2 separate regions of the Homo sapiens genome follow, and region 2 is linked to region 1. Evidence: fine-mapped expression QTL. A gene starts in region 1. The other region holds a variant in brackets. All regions are shown on one strand. Distances are from middle to middle.

What was found. PIP is the estimated chance that this variant, and not a neighbour inherited with it, causes the effect.
Region 2: its variant is fine-mapped to the expression of FLT1 in whole blood (TOPMed, PIP above 0.99).

The regions. Positions count from the first base shown.
Region 1 is chr13:28,490,566-28,499,617 of GRCh38, reverse strand. FLT1 (fms related receptor tyrosine kinase 1) reads left to right here and starts at 4,490. Exons shown (of 30, transcript NM_002019.4): 1 at 4,490-4,838. The coding sequence starts at 4,775. RefSeq lists silencers at 4,585-4,634, 4,755-4,874, 4,955-5,004.
Region 2 is chr13:28,588,222-28,597,273 of GRCh38, reverse strand. No RefSeq gene overlaps it. Among named protein-coding and RNA genes, the nearest start is that of POMP, 66 kb to the left of the region's middle. The variant G/A (reference allele first, on the strand shown) is at 4,829.

The DNA.
Region 1 (9,052 bases):
CTGACCTTAGGCAAGATAGTAGTGATACTGATTAGAGGAGGTTCCTAGAGATTACTCTAATTGGCCACTTTTCCTTTAGGCCTTATTTGCTTCTCTGATTTGCCGCTTCCCCTGCCCCATGCTTCTCTAACTATCCCAGTCTGGTCTTTTTGTTTTTTTTCCTTTCAACTTTTCTAGTATGCCTTCAATAAAATGTACCTGTCTTATTTTCTCTTGCTAGGACCATCAATTATTCCTAAATAATGACATGGTAAATGTGAATGAGTTAATATGCAGCCTCCTTTGGTGAACATACAGCTAGAGATAATGACACAAAGGAATAATTTGAGTCCTTCCTTGGTTTGCTCAACCTCCACAGATCTCTACTTTCATCCATCCATTCATTCATTCATTCATTCACTCACTCAGCTTTGTCCTTGTCAGTGATTTTGATGATGACCCAGAAGGCACGTTTACCGTATTTGTGGATCATTTGAAGCGGGAGCTATAGAAAGTCCACAGGATGGCAGAATCAGAGACCAGAAAGACTTCGACATGCTGGAAAGACAGACTAAAACAAACAAAAGGCTTAAACAACACGCTCAGGGCCTGCAGCCTGAGTCAACCCAAGCGGCGGCTGCACAAGGGCAGCCAGATAGCAGCTCTCATGAGAAAGCCTTGGGGCTTTAACCAAGAATAAGTTCTGGAAGAGTCCAAGGTATGAAGGCGCTGACAGAAAAGGCTCCTTTGATCTTAGGTCCCAGGAACAGAAGCAAGTTCTCTCCGTAGTAGCCCCTGGGAGTAGCAGGAGGAGAATTCCAAGTAAAGCCAATGGCGATCTTATAAACACCAGCAGCGCCCACCCATGCCCGGGAGAAGGTAGTCAGGAGCAGACGGGAGCATGAGTAGCAGGAACAGGAGGAGCCAGGGAGCCCAGGCCGGCGGCCCCAGAGGTGCCACCAGGGCAGTGCTGCCCTGCTCTCGGTGGCACTGGCCTTATCTCCAGGAGGGGGCTGTCCCCTTTGCTTCCTTCTCCACGCTGCTCTTCCCACCTGAACGATTTTCCTTCCTCGCTCCCACTGGGCCTTCCCACAGGCTTTTCTCTCTGCCTGAAAGAAAAACTACCTCTAGGAGTAGGGAAATGATAATTGTGCTGCATTTTCAATCCTAAGCGTGTCACCTGCAGGGACACTGATATGCTGGATGGAATTTCTGGAGCGTGTCAGCTGAAGAGTGACCAAAGGGATGTGGATGTTGAGGCTGGAGACAAGATGCCCATGGCACAGGAGGTGTTTTTAAGTGTTCAATAAATTTTCATGTGGAGATATTGGAGCATTGAATAGGAATTCCACGAATTGACTCGGTAGATGGGTTGAATGGCTTTTAAACCCAGTACAAGATGTTTAAGTTCTTTGAAAATGGGGGCATTTCAGCCACAGTGGTAGCTTCCCATAGCAAGACTTTTGAGCCAATGGGGTCATCAGCATCTGATAAGTAAACTCATACATGTGCCTGCCTGGTGAACTCCGCAGAACTTCTTAGCAGAGATTTGGGAGCGTGTGCTTTTTAGACCAAGGAGCCTGAACTGTCCAGAGGATATGTACTGTGAAGCTTTTTAAAATATAACACAGAAGGGTTTTATGAGATCATTTGGTTCTTGTATTCAACCATACATATTTGCATTATGCAGAGTATGCCCATAGAGTGTATTTTTCCTTTTGTATCAAGCTACCTAACCCAAGTGGAAAAGAAATTCCTGACTGATCCTCAGTGACTGTGGCTGATCAGCTCCATGCTTGGTCTTTGGAGGAAGGTGAGAGCCTGGGCTCCCTCCTGTCTCTCACACTGGTGCTCCAACACTCTTATTCAGTCTCGAATATTAAAGCTGATGGATTTAGCAACAGTGTGCTTCTGAATAGGGGTGAGAAAGAAACCTCAAGAGAATGTTTGTAGCTGATAACAAGAGAGAGTGTCTGGTTTTGCTAACCAAACAGGAGATGAAATGTTCTTTTGTATGTGAGCAGGAAGCAAGCAGATTGCCTACTTCAATAGCTTTTTATACCCACCAGGCGTGTTGAATTCCATCTTCTCCATCAGTATTATCTATAAAACCTCTTTCATTAGTGATTTAGTTAGGAGAGTGCTATAGCCCATTCTCATTCAAAGGTATTATCTCTTTTGGGGAGAGGATTGGGAGCTATACATTTATTCCCCATATCTAAGCTAAAATTTGTAGCATTTTTGAGTTCTTTGTGAGAACGCTAATGCAACTAACAAAGAAGTCATAGTCAATAAATTGCTGACTCTAATTAAAAGCAACTTTTCAAAAGAGTAGTTGGGAAATGTGGAAGCCCACCCTTACTGCAGCATAGTTTTAATATAAATCTTAGATTCGACTGTGACTCTACTAACCTTAAATAATTGAGCAACATGTTAATATCATTGATTAGCATCTTAGATTATAAAGATTGTTTCAGCTGTCCATCAAATACCTGTTCTGGCTTTACAGACACAATGTAGATTCATTGCTGGCAGCAGGTTTGGAAAGTGTTGTCTCTTTATGAGTTAAAAATATCAAAATGGCATTTGAAAAAATGTATTAGCAAATTAAACCTTTGTACATGGTACTATGGACCACTTTCCCCCAGAGTCAAATGTGTGTCTCTCCTGAGAAGCCCTCCTTGGGTTTTCCCTGCCAATAAATGTGCCTTTACTTCTCTGAGCTGATGGAGGACTAAACACCCCTCCAGCACTGGAATGCCGGTCCTGCAGCCACTTCAAGTGTCCACCTTCTTATCACAGTCCAAGCCCTTTAGAAGGCAAAGATGATGGCTCTCCATCAGTGTTTTCAGCCCTAACCCAATGCCTGGCCCCTGTTGAATGCTGCAGAAGGACAATGCTGACAGCTTCTCCTTGAAAGAGGGTGTGGGAGTGACAAGCAGCTCTCAGGTGAGACCAACAGACACTGTGGCTCCGCACGTATGTCCCAGGCTGTGTTCTGGGCTGGGGGACCAGCAAGGAGAAGGATCAGCTGTCCGCTTCCAGCTGTTCTGAGGGATGATGCTGTGGGTTTTAGAGGAGGCAGGGGTGCGGGAGGCAGAGAAAGGCGCCAGGAAGAGTGGTGAGGAGAACTGGAAAAACAGAAAGCGCTGGTGAAGCCAGCAGGCAAGCAATGACTCCGGCAGTCTTCCTTGCCTCTGAAGCAGAAGGGATCCAGGGACAGTTAGTGGCTCAGGTCCTGCGGCTCCAGGTGCCCAGACGTGCATTTCCTGTGTGGAGTGGCCGGGGCCTCTCCTTGGTGTGCAGCCCAGAAATGTGGCAACTTTGGGTTACCCAACCTTCCTAGGCGGGGAGGTAGTCCAGTCCTTCAGGAAGAGTCTCTGGCTCCGTTCAAGAGCCATCACAGTCCCTTGTATTACATCCCTCTGACGGGTTCCAATAGGACTATTTTTCAAATCTGCGGTATTTACAGAGACAAGACTGGGCTGCTCCGTGCAGCCAGGACGACTTCAGCCTTTGAGGTAATGGAGACATAATTGAGGAACAACGTGGAATTAGTGTCATAGCAAATGATCTAGGGCCTCAAGTTAATTTCAGCCGGTTGTGGTCAGAGTCACTCATCTTGAGTAGCAAGCTGCCACCAGAAAGATTTCTTTTTCGAGCATTTAGGGAATAAAGTTCAAGTGCCCTGCGCTTCCAAGTTGCAGGAGCAGTTTCACGCCTCAGCTTTTTAAAGGTATCATAATGTTATTCCTTGTTTTGCTTCTAGGAAGCAGAAGACTGAGGAAATGACTTGGGCGGGTGCATCAATGCGGCCGAAAAAGACACGGACACGCTCCCCTGGGACCTGAGCTGGTTCGCAGTCTTCCCAAAGGTGCCAAGCAAGCGTCAGTTCCCCTCAGGCGCTCCAGGTTCAGTGCCTTGTGCCGAGGGTCTCCGGTGCCTTCCTAGACTTCTCGGGACAGTCTGAAGGGGTCAGGAGCGGCGGGACAGCGCGGGAAGAGCAGGCAAGGGGAGACAGCCGGACTGCGCCTCAGTCCTCCGTGCCAAGAACACCGTCGCGGAGGCGCGGCCAGCTTCCCTTGGATCGGACTTTCCGCCCCTAGGGCCAGGCGGCGGAGCTTCAGCCTTGTCCCTTCCCCAGTTTCGGGCGGCCCCCAGAGCTGAGTAAGCCGGGTGGAGGGAGTCTGCAAGGATTTCCTGAGCGCGATGGGCAGGAGGAGGGGCAAGGGCAAGAGGGCGCGGAGCAAAGACCCTGAACCTGCCGGGGCCGCGCTCCCGGGCCCGCGTCGCCAGCACCTCCCCACGCGCGCTCGGCCCCGGGCCACCCGCCCTCGTCGGCCCCCGCCCCTCTCCGTAGCCGCAGGGAAGCGAGCCTGGGAGGAAGAAGAGGGTAGGTGGGGAGGCGGATGAGGGGTGGGGGACCCCTTGACGTCACCAGAAGGAGGTGCCGGGGTAGGAAGTGGGCTGGGGAAAGGTTATAAATCGCCCCCGCCCTCGGCTGCTCTTCATCGAGGTCCGCGGGAGGCTCGGAGCGCGCCAGGCGGACACTCCTCTCGGCTCCTCCCCGGCAGCGGCGGCGGCTCGGAGCGGGCTCCGGGGCTCGGGTGCAGCGGCCAGCGGGCGCCTGGCGGCGAGGATTACCCGGGGAAGTGGTTGTCTCCTGGCTGGAGCCGCGAGACGGGCGCTCAGGGCGCGGGGCCGGCGGCGGCGAACGAGAGGACGGACTCTGGCGGCCGGGTCGTTGGCCGCGGGGAGCGCGGGCACCGGGCGAGCAGGCCGCGTCGCGCTCACCATGGTCAGCTACTGGGACACCGGGGTCCTGCTGTGCGCGCTGCTCAGCTGTCTGCTTCTCACAGGTGAGGCGCGGCTGGGGGCCGGGGCCTGAGGCGGGCTGCGATGGGGCGGCCGGAGGGCAGAGCCTCCGAGGCCAGGGCGGGGTGCACGCGGGGAGACGAGGCTGTAGCCCGGAGAAGCTGGCTACGGCGAGAACCTGGGACACTAGTTGCAGCGGGCACGCTTGGGGCCGCTGCGCCCTTTCTCCGAGGGAGCGCCTCGAGGAGTGGCTGGCCTGGACCCGCGAGCATCAGCGCTCAGACCGGGTCCGCGCTGGGGCTGTCCGTTTGCGACAGGATCGCTGATCCCTTATCCAGCTGTCGGGTTGGGGTCTCACTGCCGAGGCCCTGGGCACTAGGAGCAGCACGCACCGGGACCTGCCTGGCACCCAGAGCCCATTCCCAGAGGACCTGGGGCAGGTACGCAGGGTCCCCCGGAGCCGGGAGCAGAGGCTCCTGAAAGCCTGCCAGGCTGCCCGGGGCTGGGCTGAGGCCGGGACTTTGGTGATATTGGGCACTGGCCGCGACCTCGCGTCACGAGAGTGTAGGAGGGGAGCCGATTTGGAGGGGACTCGTGCCTGCGGGGGAGCAGGAGGATCTCAGGAGAGGGCCAGCGCCGGCATCCCATGACCCGCTTGAGTCCCCAAGCCGGACTGTCCCGGGGAACGCTCGGCGAGCGCCCGCTCCTCCCCGCCGCTCTCGGACCGCGGGGCCCCAGTGCGCTGCGCTCAGCCACCCGGGTGGGGCCTCTGCCGGGAGCAGGCGTGGTGCGCGGTCCAGTCCGTGTCGCGGACATCAGTGACCCTGACCCACAAGGGCAGCCCAGGGCCCAAATACCGTTAACTTACTGACTTACAAGCCTAGCCTTTAAAATCCGAGCGAAGAGAGGGCGGGCGATTTTGACCAAACGATGTGGTTTGAGGAATCGATGAGGTCCGCCCGCCACCTAAGTCAGCCTTCGCTGGGCGTTTGGGAGACGGGCGGTGGAACAGTCAGGGGCCGGGGGTTTTACCAGCAGTTAGACCGCCGCCATTGAGGGGTCAAAGCCCCGAGGAACTTGAGGGTTCGGACTCGCAGTCTCTGCTCAGTGGGGCTGAGTGGCGGAGATTTGTGCCTCGTTCCCCTGGGCGCAGAGAGCCAGATTTCGGAGCGCCTTTCTTTTAAGCATCGTGGAGAAAAGGTAAAATATGAAATAAAATATAGTAATATAAAATAAGTCATTGCAATGATTCCCGGGAAGAAAAGTCAATAGGATGGAGCGTAGTACAACAACAACAACAACAAAAAGCTTGTTAAACCCAAAAAGCAGTAATAATTAAATATTCTTTCTCAGTGGGAAGACTAACTAGACCGTCAGTTTCCAAGTAACAAGTAATAGTTCCAATTAGATTGGAGAAACTACTAAACCCGGAGACAGGGCGAAGTGGTAACTTCTGAGAACTCACTGTAGGTTGGGAAAGGTGCTAACATAACTATATTAAATAAAATGTTGTATTTTCTATTTCACAAATACATTTTTTGTTTTGAAAAGTCACTTGTATTAAAATATAATTGCTTAGAGAATTTAAATACCTCACTCGACTATTATGTAAAGATAAATCTAGCTAAATTACATGAATCTAAAATTACGGAGGGAAAAGTACGTGATTTATTAGATTTTCTGCTTCACATAATTATATCTTTATTTTGAAAACATGCTGACTTTAGTGAAGCATCGTTTTCTTTGTAATTGGAAGCATCTTAGATCAGTGGAAACTTTACAGAAATGTGAGTGGGATCCTCTTGTGATTTTTCTTAGATTATAATTTACTTAAATGGGGCAGCAGTTTTGCAACTCTGAATTTCTTTTTTTTTTTTATTTGCACTTTTTTGGGAAGAAAGGACTAACATTGGCAAGCTGAGAACCTCTTTACCTAACAGTTAACAGAACACTCTGTTAGTTCATGTTAGCTCAGTCGGCATCATGGGTGCTTTTGAAAACTCATAGTTTCTCTGTCTGGTTAACAAGCATCTCACAGTAAAACAATCAGCTACCGCCTACTTTACAAACCGCATCAGGGCTTTCATGCTCAACTGAGAGGCTGCATATCCGGGAAGCAATGTCTAGTAAGAAGCCACGGTTCCCCACTGCAGAGTTCTCTTGCGTCATTATGAACCTGGGTCTGCCTTCCTTCAGGTACTATGTAATCTTTGAATACTTATCAGCTATTAATATTCTGTGTGTGTGCATGCCTGGTGTGCACATGCATTGAGAGGTAAAATAACCAGAGGCTCAGTATTACAAAAAGATAATGCCTTTCCCCTCTAAAGCGCTTATTTACCTCTTCCAGACATTCTGGGAAATAAAAAGATGCCAATAATTCAGATACTTTCAAGTCCTCTCTATTGCTCTTTCTCTATAAAGGATACCAGTCCTCTTTCTCCAGCTCTGAGTCTCATTTCTTACTTTTAAGGTATCACAACCTGGATGAAAGCTACAGACCTTTTTCTTTGCCCTCATTTTTCTTGAGTTCTTGAACAGCTAACATTTACAATTTACTATAACTAAGTGGAAATACTGAAATTGTGAATTTTGTGAAGGAAGTCCATATTAATAATATTAAATCAAAGTGCACATGAAAATACCTATTTCAAATTGAATGTAATAAATCTCTTATAATAAAGTTAATTTTTTGTAACAATTTTTGTTGTTTTCTCCAAGGTTTTATGAAGCTGCACTTTTTTTTGGTCTAAATTGCATATTCGAAATATTAATTATTTAGGAGCTTTGGCAGCCTACAGTTTTCCAACTGAAGCATCATGTTACAAAGGAACTGTAGGTGACTACTTACTCCAGTTCCTCAAATATTGTTGCTTACTATTTTAGCACTTTGTTACATTTTTAAAATTTCCCTGTTGGACATTCTATAATAGGCTATCTGGTTTCTTTTCTAACGATCACCAAGTGGGTACTTTGTTTTCGTATGTAAAATGAAGACGTTAGTATAGGTGGTTGATTTCTAAGGCCCTTTTCTGACTCCAAAATTCAATGAATGATTCCAAGAAATGGCCTGAACACCGTGTCTGTCTTTCTCTTTTCTCTTCCCCACCTTATTTATATTTGTATATAGAGTGGATGAGAAACCATATGATGCTGGGGCTGTTAGGATGAACTGGGTTTCCCCTGCTAATCACATTAAACTTTCTTTTTCTTTAGTAGCATGTACCTAAACAGCCAGTCAATTTGGCCTTGAATAGGCTGTTTTGGAAGAGATGGGCTGGTAGAGGATGCCTGAGCCAGCAGTCATCTTTATCTTGGGCTTTTTTCACTAGCAGAATGTATAACTCTATAAAGTAGATGCTCCCTCAAAACTCTAGTTGCATTAACTCTTCTAAGGATAGCAGTCATTTTAAACCCCTATTTATTTCTTGAATTTTTAAAGCTAACACTTATTTGATTAACAGAATGGCTTTATTCTTTTAAAAAAAGTTCCAGATTTTAACAGGGATACTAAACCCCTTATTTAAAATTGAGTCTACTTTACGTGACTTTTAAGAAACAAACCAAGTAATTACTTTGTTCTTTCCAAAAATGATCGAGACATTTCTAAGTCTACTTTAAATTTATTTAATATGGAAGTTGAAGGTGATGTGTTACCAAAAAATGGTTTCATATTGACCAAAATAATGTAATGTCCTCGAGGAAGGTTATGCAGCCTATTGAGATCTACACAGCAGAGTTATGGCTGATATTTGACCTGGCTTGGGCAGTTGGGCAAGACAAGAACAAATAACAGAGTAAGTAGCTTCTGTAGTGCTTTAAACTGATATGTGTATGTGGGTGGGGATAAGAATGGAGAAAAAGTGAGAGAAGCTATCTTGGCACGTGAATGTTAAATGCGAAGCCTGCTGGTGTTAGTAGAGGCCAGGCGTGTCTAATTCTTGGTTTGGATCTCACAGTTAGGGGTGTGTTGGGTATCAAGTAAATATCATCATTTTTCAGTGCATTTGTCATTGCAGGTAGGGGAGGAAGGGCATTTGAAATCATACCAGACTTTTTTTTAAGTAAAAATATATTACTGTGAGTAGTTAAAAGTATAGACCATCTGTGGCATTTGGTTTAAGCAATTTGGTAGAACCGAACAGTCCATTCTGCTCCATTGGCCTTCGTTTATAGGAGAGGCTTGTAAGAAATGACAAGATCTCCTGCCAGATGCTTTCCAGGATCACTGGTGGTTCCTCACACTCTTGGGTGCTGT
Region 2 (9,052 bases), 98 kb before region 1:
GGCAACATAGCAAGACCCAATCTCCAAAAACAATTTAAAAAATTAGCCGGGCATGGTGGTGTGTGCCTGTAGTCCCAGCTACTCAGGAGGCTATGGTGGGAGGATGATTTGAGCCCAGGAAGTCGAGGCTGCAGTGAGCTATGACTGCCGCTGCACCCCAGCCTGGGCAAAGGGGCAAGACCCTGTCTTTAAAAGAAAAGAAGAAAAGAAAAGAACAGAGAACACAGAGAGAAATTAGAAACAAGCTTATTGCAGTTGCCAATTCTGTGTATCTCATGAAGTCCTGACTCTCCCTCTTTGGAACACTTGGGCCAATAGAGCTTAATTGTATGCTCAGTTTGATCATATTTTACGTGCAGCTTTAAAAAATATCATTTATTCATTCATTCAATAAATGAAAGGACGGACTCCAAGATAAGCAACTGCAGAGTGGGTGTGCCCAACCAGACCTCAACCCCGTCCCCAGTTCTGATTGTCTTCTGTCTAAAAGTTGTACGGACATTGTCTAATGCTGCCCAGTTGTGGAGAAAGGTGTAGGAGAGACAGCCAAAAGAGGGAGTGTCGCTTGGGCAGCCTGCACTTCCTCCATTTGACACAGAAATGGCCCATGAATTTCCTGTGGGTTTTCTAGACAGCTGAGAGGTGGCTAGACTTAAGCTACCTTAGGTACCCCACCGAAGGCCACTGTCCTTCATGCAGGGCCAACCAAGGAGCTGTGGTGAAGGCCGTAGGTGAACGCCAGCCAGAACCCGATCTTCACGCCGCAGAGCTGCAGTAGGGAAGGACATCTGAAGCGCGTCTAGAAAATCCAAAGATTGGTTCCAGGAGAGATCCAGCATGTGACCCCTGCCTCACAAGCAGTCAGACTGTTTGTGTCTGTAGCCCACAAGGCTACAGCGATCCAGGGAGAGGAGACTGCCTCCCTGCTCCGGGCAGCCCAGCAAGGAGCTGTCCCTGCTGCTCTGTTCCACCTTCTGCTGCGACCCAGGAGGGTAGGTCCAGGGGAGCTGGAGGGGAAAAATGTGTACCCGCCATGACTTTGTCTCCTATGTCACGCTGCTGGGGGAAGAGGAGGCTGACTTCAAGCAGAATCTAAGGTTACTATTTTAAAAGGAAAACTTTTTATTGGAGAATTTCAAACACAATGCACAGCTTTAAAAAATATCATTTATTCATTCATTCAATAAATGAAAGGACAGACTCAAAGATAAGCAACTGCAGAGTGGGTGTGCCCAACCAGACCTCAACCCCGTCCCCAGTTCTGATTGTCTTCTGTCTAAAAGTTGTACAGACATTGGCTGATGCCGCCCAGATGTGGAGAAAGATATGAGAGACAGCCAAAAGGGGGATTCTTTCTATTTCACAAAACAGAAAGAATAGTGTGCTGACTCCCGCCACCAAGCTTCAAGCTTCAATAATGACCAACTCAGCCAGTTTTGCTCATCCATACTTACCCTCCAACTTTCCCACCTCAATTATTTTTAAGCAGGTCTCAGACGTCAGGCTATTTTACCATAAATATTTTAGTAGATATTGCCAAAAGATAAGGACTTAAAATAGCCATTATATTCCTGAATATTATCAGATGTTCCCAGATTGTGCCATAATTTTTTATAGTTTGATTAAGAATCCACATAAGTTCTATACGTTGCACTTGATGTTTATATCTTTTAAGAGTCCTTGGCTGGGCATGGTGGCTCACTACTGTAATCCCAGCACTTTGGGAGGCCGAGGCGGGCAGATCACTTGAGGTCAGGAGTTAGAGACCAGCCTGACCAACACGGAGAAACCCCGTCTCAACTGAAAATACAAAATTAGCCAGGCGTGGTGACGCATGCCTGTAATCCCAGCTACTCGGAAGGCTGAGGCGGGAGAATCGCTTGAATCCGGGAGGCACAGGTTGTGGTGACCTGAGATCATGCCATTGCACTCCAGCCTGGGAAACAAGAGTGAAACTGTGTCTCAAAAAAAAAATAAAAACAAAAATAAATAAATAAAGAATCCTTTAATCTGTGGTTTCTTCTGCTTTCTACTTTATTTTCTTGCAATTTATTAAAGAAATTTGGTTGTTTTTCCTGTAGAGTTTCCCACAGTCTGGGTTTTGCAGATTGCTTCCAAGCGACCTTGTTAAGATGTTCCTCTGACCCACATTTTCTATAAATTGGTAGTTAGATGGAGAGGCTTGATCAGATTTAAATTGGTTTGATTTTTTGGCAAGATTATTTCACAGGTTATTTCTCTCTCTTTTTCGTTTTATTGTGGCAAAAAAAAAAAAAATGAAACCACATACCTAAAATGTACAATCTTAAGTATTTTTAAGTGTACGGTTCAGTAGCGTTAGTATCTTCACACTGTTTTGCAACCATCACCACCATCCCTCTCCAGAACCTTTCCATCTTGCAGAACTAAAACTCTGCACCCATTAAACAAAAGCCCCTCATTGACCCCATTCCAGCACATGGCAATCACCATTCTACTTTCTGTCTCTATGAAATTGGACTACTCTAGATACCTCATATAAGCAGAATCACACAATATTTGTCTTTTGGTGACAGGTTTGTTCACTTATCATAGTGTTCTCAGGATTCATGTTGTAGCATGTGTCAGAATTCCTTTCACTTTCAGGGTCTCCATTGTATGTGTGTACCTCATTTTGTTTATCCATTCATCCATCAATCTGCCCAGTCTTTGGCCGTTTACACCTTTTGACTATAATGCTGCTATAAACATGGGTGTGCAAATATCACTTCAAGATCCTTCATTTAATTCTTGTGGGTATATACCTAGAAATCAAATGACTGGATCCTAAGGCAATTCTATTTTTAGTATTTTGAGGAAACTTCAAACTGTTTTCCACAGCAGCTGCACCATTTTACAATTCCACCAACAATGTGCAAGCGTTCCAATTTCTCTGCCTCTGCTCCAACCCTTGTTTTATTTTTGTTTAATTGCGTACTTTTTTTGTTTTTTGATTAGCCATCCTCACAGGTGTGAGGTTATATTTTATTGTGGTTTTGATTTGCATTTCCCTAATGATTAGTGACGGTGACGCTGAGCATCTTTCATATGCTTGTTGGCCATTTGTATATCATATTTAGATAAATGTCTGTTTGAGTCCTTTGCCCATTTTTTTAATTGAGTTTTTGTTTTTGTTTTTGTTGAGTTGTTGGAATTCTTTATATATTCTGGATCCTAACCCCTTATAACCCCTTATATGAATTGCAAATATGTTCTACCATTCTGTGGGTTATTTTTTCACTCTTTCGATTGTGTCTTTTGATACACAGAAGCTTTTAATTTTGATTAAAATTAATCAATTTTAATTTTGATTAAAAGTCCCATTTGTCTATTTTTCCTTTTGTTGACTGTTCTTTTGGTATCATACTGAGGAAATCCTTGCTAAATCCAATATTGTGAAGCTTTTCCCTTATGCTTTTTTCTACAGTTGTCTTTTTAGCCATTATTAGTGATTATTGCCAAGAACAATGATTTCACCAGAGGTTCCAAAAAATGTGATATTCCAATTTAATCCTTCTTTCTTTATTAGCTGAAATACTTCTGTAAAGATAAATTTCCCTCTTTAACTACTGGGTTGTCCTGAGGCTCATTTTATGCTGGAAACATTTATTTTTTCTTTTTATTTACAAGTTTTCAAAATAATGTGTTGGTTGCCTAGTCATCCTTAAAAGAGGACAAATGAGAGAGTTTTTTGAAGTTTCATTGTGAACTTATACATTTAAGGATTTTAATGTGTTTAATCCACTGCAGTTGTTATTTTTATTGTTCAAACATTTCCATCTTTAGACAGAAGGAGACTTCATGCTGGCTCCTGGATTCTTTTGGCATGGGCCTAAGATTTTTTTTATCGATTCCTTGCTTTCTGTTATTTCAAGGTGTTTTAGACCTATTTAACAATTTGATGTCCTAGACAAAGAATTGACCATTGAGATAATATTTAAGTATAAATAGTAATGAGATTTTAAAATCTAGAATGAGACTACTTTAGTAATCTCAACATCGGCCGGGCGCAGTGGCTCACGCCTGTAATCCTAACATGTTGGGAGGCTGAGGCGGGCAGATCACCTGAGGTCAGGAGTTCAAGACCAGCCTGGCCAACATGGTGAAACCCCATCTCTACTAAAATACAAAAATTAGCTGGGCATGATGGCGGGTGCCTGTAATCCCAGCTACTTGGGAAGCTGAGATAGGAGAATTGCTTGAACCTGGGAGATGGTGGTTGCAGTGAGTCGAGATCACACCACTGCACTCCAGCCTGGGCAGCTAAGCGAGACTCCGTCTCAAAATAATAATAGTAATAATAATCTGGACATTGTGGAATTGGACTGAAGTATCCCAAGATTCTTGAGTATTGAGACTAGCATAATCAGGGCAGTTATGGAAAAACATGAACCGACTTCATGTTTATACCCCCAATGAATTGAAAATTCATAATGGGTTGATACAGACATCCAAGTGGAGAGGTCAAGAAGGCAGTTGGAGGCATAATTTAAAACTTAGTAGGAAGATCCAGGCTGAAAGCACAGATCTGGGAATTATCTTGTTGACTTATCTGTAAGTCTCAGGGATAGTTGAGATGCTCTAGAGAGAAAATGCTGAGGGAAAAGAGAAGCAGGCCAAGGACAGAGCCCTGGGCTACACCAACAGTTAGTCATTTGAGAAGAGGTGGAACCAGTGAAGGGATCCAAATGTTTATTAAGTTAGGCAGAAACCAGGACATCGAGGTGGTCCTGAAACCAAAACAAGAGTATATTTCAAGAAGGAAGTCAATTGTGTCCAAGAGAGAAGCTGAGAGGAAGACCAGAAAATG[G/A]CCGTTGCATTTGGCAAAGTGGAAGTCATCTGTGACTTTGACAGGAAGGGTTGCTGAGGTCAGTGGGGTTGGAGGCATCAGTGGAGTGTTTTGAGGCGGTGGACTGTGTCTTCACGGAGACTTCAAGGTAGTGGGCTCTCAGTTATCCCATGACATCAAGTGGCAGGTCAAGGCATCTCATTACCAAAGATCAGTCTTACACACAGGGAAGGAGAGCTCCATGTGTTCAAGCGGGCAGGCGGGCAGACAAGAGGGCAGCAAACTATGGGGAGATCAGGTCCACTCTTTATCTGCTTTTTTTCAAAACCATGGTTTTAAAAAACACATAACAGAAAACTGGCCATCTTAACCTTTTTTTTTTTTTTTTTTTTGAGATAGGGTCTCACCCTGTCACCCAGGCTGGAGTGCAGTAGTGTCATCTCGGCTCATTGCGACCTCTGCCTCCTGGGTTCAAGTGATTCTCCCACCTCAGCCTCCCGAGTAGCTGGGATTATGGGCATGAGCCACTGTGCCCGGCTATTTTTTTTTTTTTTTGTATTTTTAGTAGAGACGGGGTTTCACTGTGTCAGCCAGGTTGGTTTAACTATTTTTTAAGTTTCCAATTCTGTAGTGTTCATTAAGTATATTCACCTTATTGTGCAATGGATCTCCAGAACTTTTCTTCACTTTGCAAAACTGAAATTCTATACCCATTAAACAAAAACTCCCCATTCCCCCTTCCCCTCAGCCCCTAACAACCCCCATTCTACTTTCTGTCTTGATACATTTCACTACTCCAGGTACCTCACAACTTACCTCCTTATTTAAGAAGTCTGGAAGCCGGCTGCAGTGGCTCACACCTGTAATCCCAGTACTTTGGGAGGCTGAGGCAGGAGATTGCTTGAGGCCAGGAGTTTGAGACCAGCCTGGGCAACAAAGCAAGATCTCATCTCTACAAAAAAAAAAAAAAAAAAAAAAAAAGTTTTTAAATTAGCTGGGTGAGATGGCACCTGCCTATAGTCCCAGCTACTCAGGAGGCTGAAATGGGAGGATTGCTTGAATCCATGAGTTGGAGGCTGCAGCGAGCTATGACCCTGCCACTGCACTCCAGCCTGGGTGACAGTACAAAACCCCATCTCTAAAGAAAAAATAAGAAGCAAACTCAAATCTCAAAGAGCCATGTGTTTGAAGGACTCTGTGAAAGAACAGTTGGACTGTCCAGAGAAAATATAAGTGCAAGCTGCAAAGCCCAGACTGGGAAAGGTCCAGCTAATCAAGAGCAGCATTCTGGGGACTCAGAGATAAAACTGACCACTGAGGGTACCCTATGCTTCCCCAGCCCACGGCTGCGCAAGCCAAGGAGAGCCAGGTAGACTGCGAGAGGAGTAAGAGGCAACATCCCACACAGAGAGGAAGAAGCACCAGCCAGTGGCTGTTGTGAGGCGGCTTCTGCAGCTGCTGGAAAAGGCTCTGCTGAGAGGGCTCAGCTTGACTGGCCTTGCCTTGGAAACAAAGAGCGAAGGGTGAAAGAGAAGCTTAAAGTCCAAAACAAACATTGCACCCATCCTGATGAGGAGCTGGGTATTGCTAGGGCCTGATGGGCCAGCTCGAGGCCACCCTTCTTTTTTGGAATAATGCTCAATCCTCCTCCAGGAAGATGTCTGGGGAGGCCAGATTGGGTGGCTCTTTCAAAAGGGAGCCTGCCGCCACAAACTCAGGCTCATCTCTCAAAAGGCTTATAGAGCATCCGAAGCGAAGACGCCAAATGTTGCAACCAGCTTCTCAGAGTCTCCAGTCCTGGCGCAATAACATGGGGCGACCCAGTCTGAGTTTTCCCGGTTACCGTCTTCAAAGCCAATGCTAAGGGGAGGTAGTGGTAGGAGAACTCACTTGCTCAATCGGCTCACTCATTTGGTAATGCTAATGTGTGCATTTTAGCTGCCATGTCGGCTAACATTCAGTGTTGCAGTGCGGTGTTTCTATTCATGCCTAGTAACTGACCTGGGGCGCAGGAGCCCCAGGCTCTAGTCCCAATCCTGCTACCTATCAGCTGTGTGACTGTGGTCAGGCCACTCAACTTCTCTGAGCCTTGGTAGCAGATCTGTCCCACAGAATTGTTTTATTAAAGAAGATTTATATACCTAACGTTAACTTTTAACCATAAATGATTACCGAAAGTTTAGATTTTATGTTTGATCCTTAAGAATGCATTTTATCAAATTTTAATGAAGTCCTCCAGTGGCTTCCCATTGCCTTCCATTGACCTAAGAGTGTAAGTGATTTGGGGCCTGCCTAACTCTGACTTCATTTCTTACTCTCTTGCTGTCTTCACACACAGACTCTCGCCCCACTGAACTTATTTCTGTTCCATAAGTATTTCAGTGCTGTTCCCACCCCAGGGCTTTGGCCCCTGTTCTCCCTTCTGCCTGGAATCCTTTTCGTCACTCTGGTCCCAACTCAAATATCATTTCATCAGATCCATCAGATCCATCATTGTACGTAATGTTGCCCCCTGACCTCCTTACAATCTCTGTCCCAGTAACTTATTGTGTTTTCTTCATGAAACTATCACCCTCTTATTTCTGTTGGTTTTGCTTATTTATTGTTGTGTTCCCTATGAAAAGGGATATAAAAGCTAGACGTTTGCCTTATTCACTTCTGTCTCTTTCACCTAGAGTGGCACGTGGCTTATGGAGGAGTTTAATAAATATTCATAAGGCCGGGCGGGGTGGCTCAAGCCTGTAATCCCAGCACTTTGGGAGGCTGAGGCGGGCAGATCATGAGGTCAAGAGACTGAGACCAGCCTGGCCAACATGGTGAAACCCCGTCTCTACTAGAAGAAATTAGCCGGGCATGGTGGTGGGCGCCTGTAGTCCCAGCTACTCCAGAGGCTGAGGCAGGAGAATGGCGTGAACCCGGGAGGCGGAGCTTGCAGTGAGCCGAGATTGCGCCCCTGCACTCCAGCCTGGGCTACAGAGCGAGACTTTGTCTCAAAAAAAAAAAAAAAAAGAAAAAAAAAAAATTAGCTGGGCGTGGTCCAGCACCTGTGATCCCAGCTACTCGGGAGGCTGAGGCAAGAGAATCGCTTGAACCTGGGAGGCGGAGGTTGCAGTGAGCCAAGGTCGTGCCACTGCACTCCAGCCTGGCGACAGAATGCGATTCCATCAAAAAAAAAAAAAAAAAATCATAGAACAAAGTAATTACCACTAGGGAAATTCCATCAAAAAAAAAAAAATTCATAGAACAAATTACCACTAGGGAAATTCTTCCTATTAAATATTTAAGCCAGCACGGTGGCTCACGCCTGTAATCCCAACACTTTGGGAGACCGAGGTGGGCGGATCACCTGAGGTTGGGAGTTCGAGACCAGCCTGACCAACACGGATAAATCCCATCTGTACTAAAAATACAAAATTAGCCAGGTGTGGTGGCTCACACATGTTAATCCCAGCTACTCCAGAGGCCGAGGCAGAAGAATCACTTGAACCTGGGAGGCGGAGGTTGTGGTGAGCCGAGATGGTGCCATTGCACTCCAGCCTGGGCAACAAGAGTGAAACTCCGTCTCAAAAAATAAATAAATAAATTTTTAAGTAGGTTCATTCATGGAAGCAAAGTAAATTTCAAATAGTAATTTTATGTGACTAAGAATCCGGTTCTTCAGGTCCTTCTATACATTTTTTAAAAAAAACAAAAACTATACTCATATTGAATATATGATCTTGTAATCTACTTTTCTCAACATCACTGAATCTTTCTTCTGCAACATTTTAATGGCGCCATGTGGATGTACCGTAGCTTACCTAACCAATTCTCTGTGGTGCATATAATGAGAAATACTGCTTTGAAGAGCCACTAATAAATATTCCAAATGTCTCTCCAGAAAAGGTTTGCCAGTTTACACTCCTACCAATGAATAAAAGAGATTCATTTTCTGAACTCCGGCCAATACTGAATTTCATCACTAAAAAAAGGAAACAAAATGTTTGCTAATTAGATAAGTGAAAAAGGATCTCATTGTTGCTTCATTTTGCTTTTCTTTAATTACTTGTGAGTGTGGAGTGTTTTTCTTCATTTGCGATTTTATCATGTTGTATTTCCTCGCTTACAAATTATCTCTTTATGTTTTTCTTGGCTTCATTTTTTTAATTGTCATTGTTGGTTTTCTGTGTGGTATTCATCTTTTATTGATTTGTAAAGGCTATTTTTATATTAAGGTGATTTGCCTTTGTCACAGATTGCAAATAT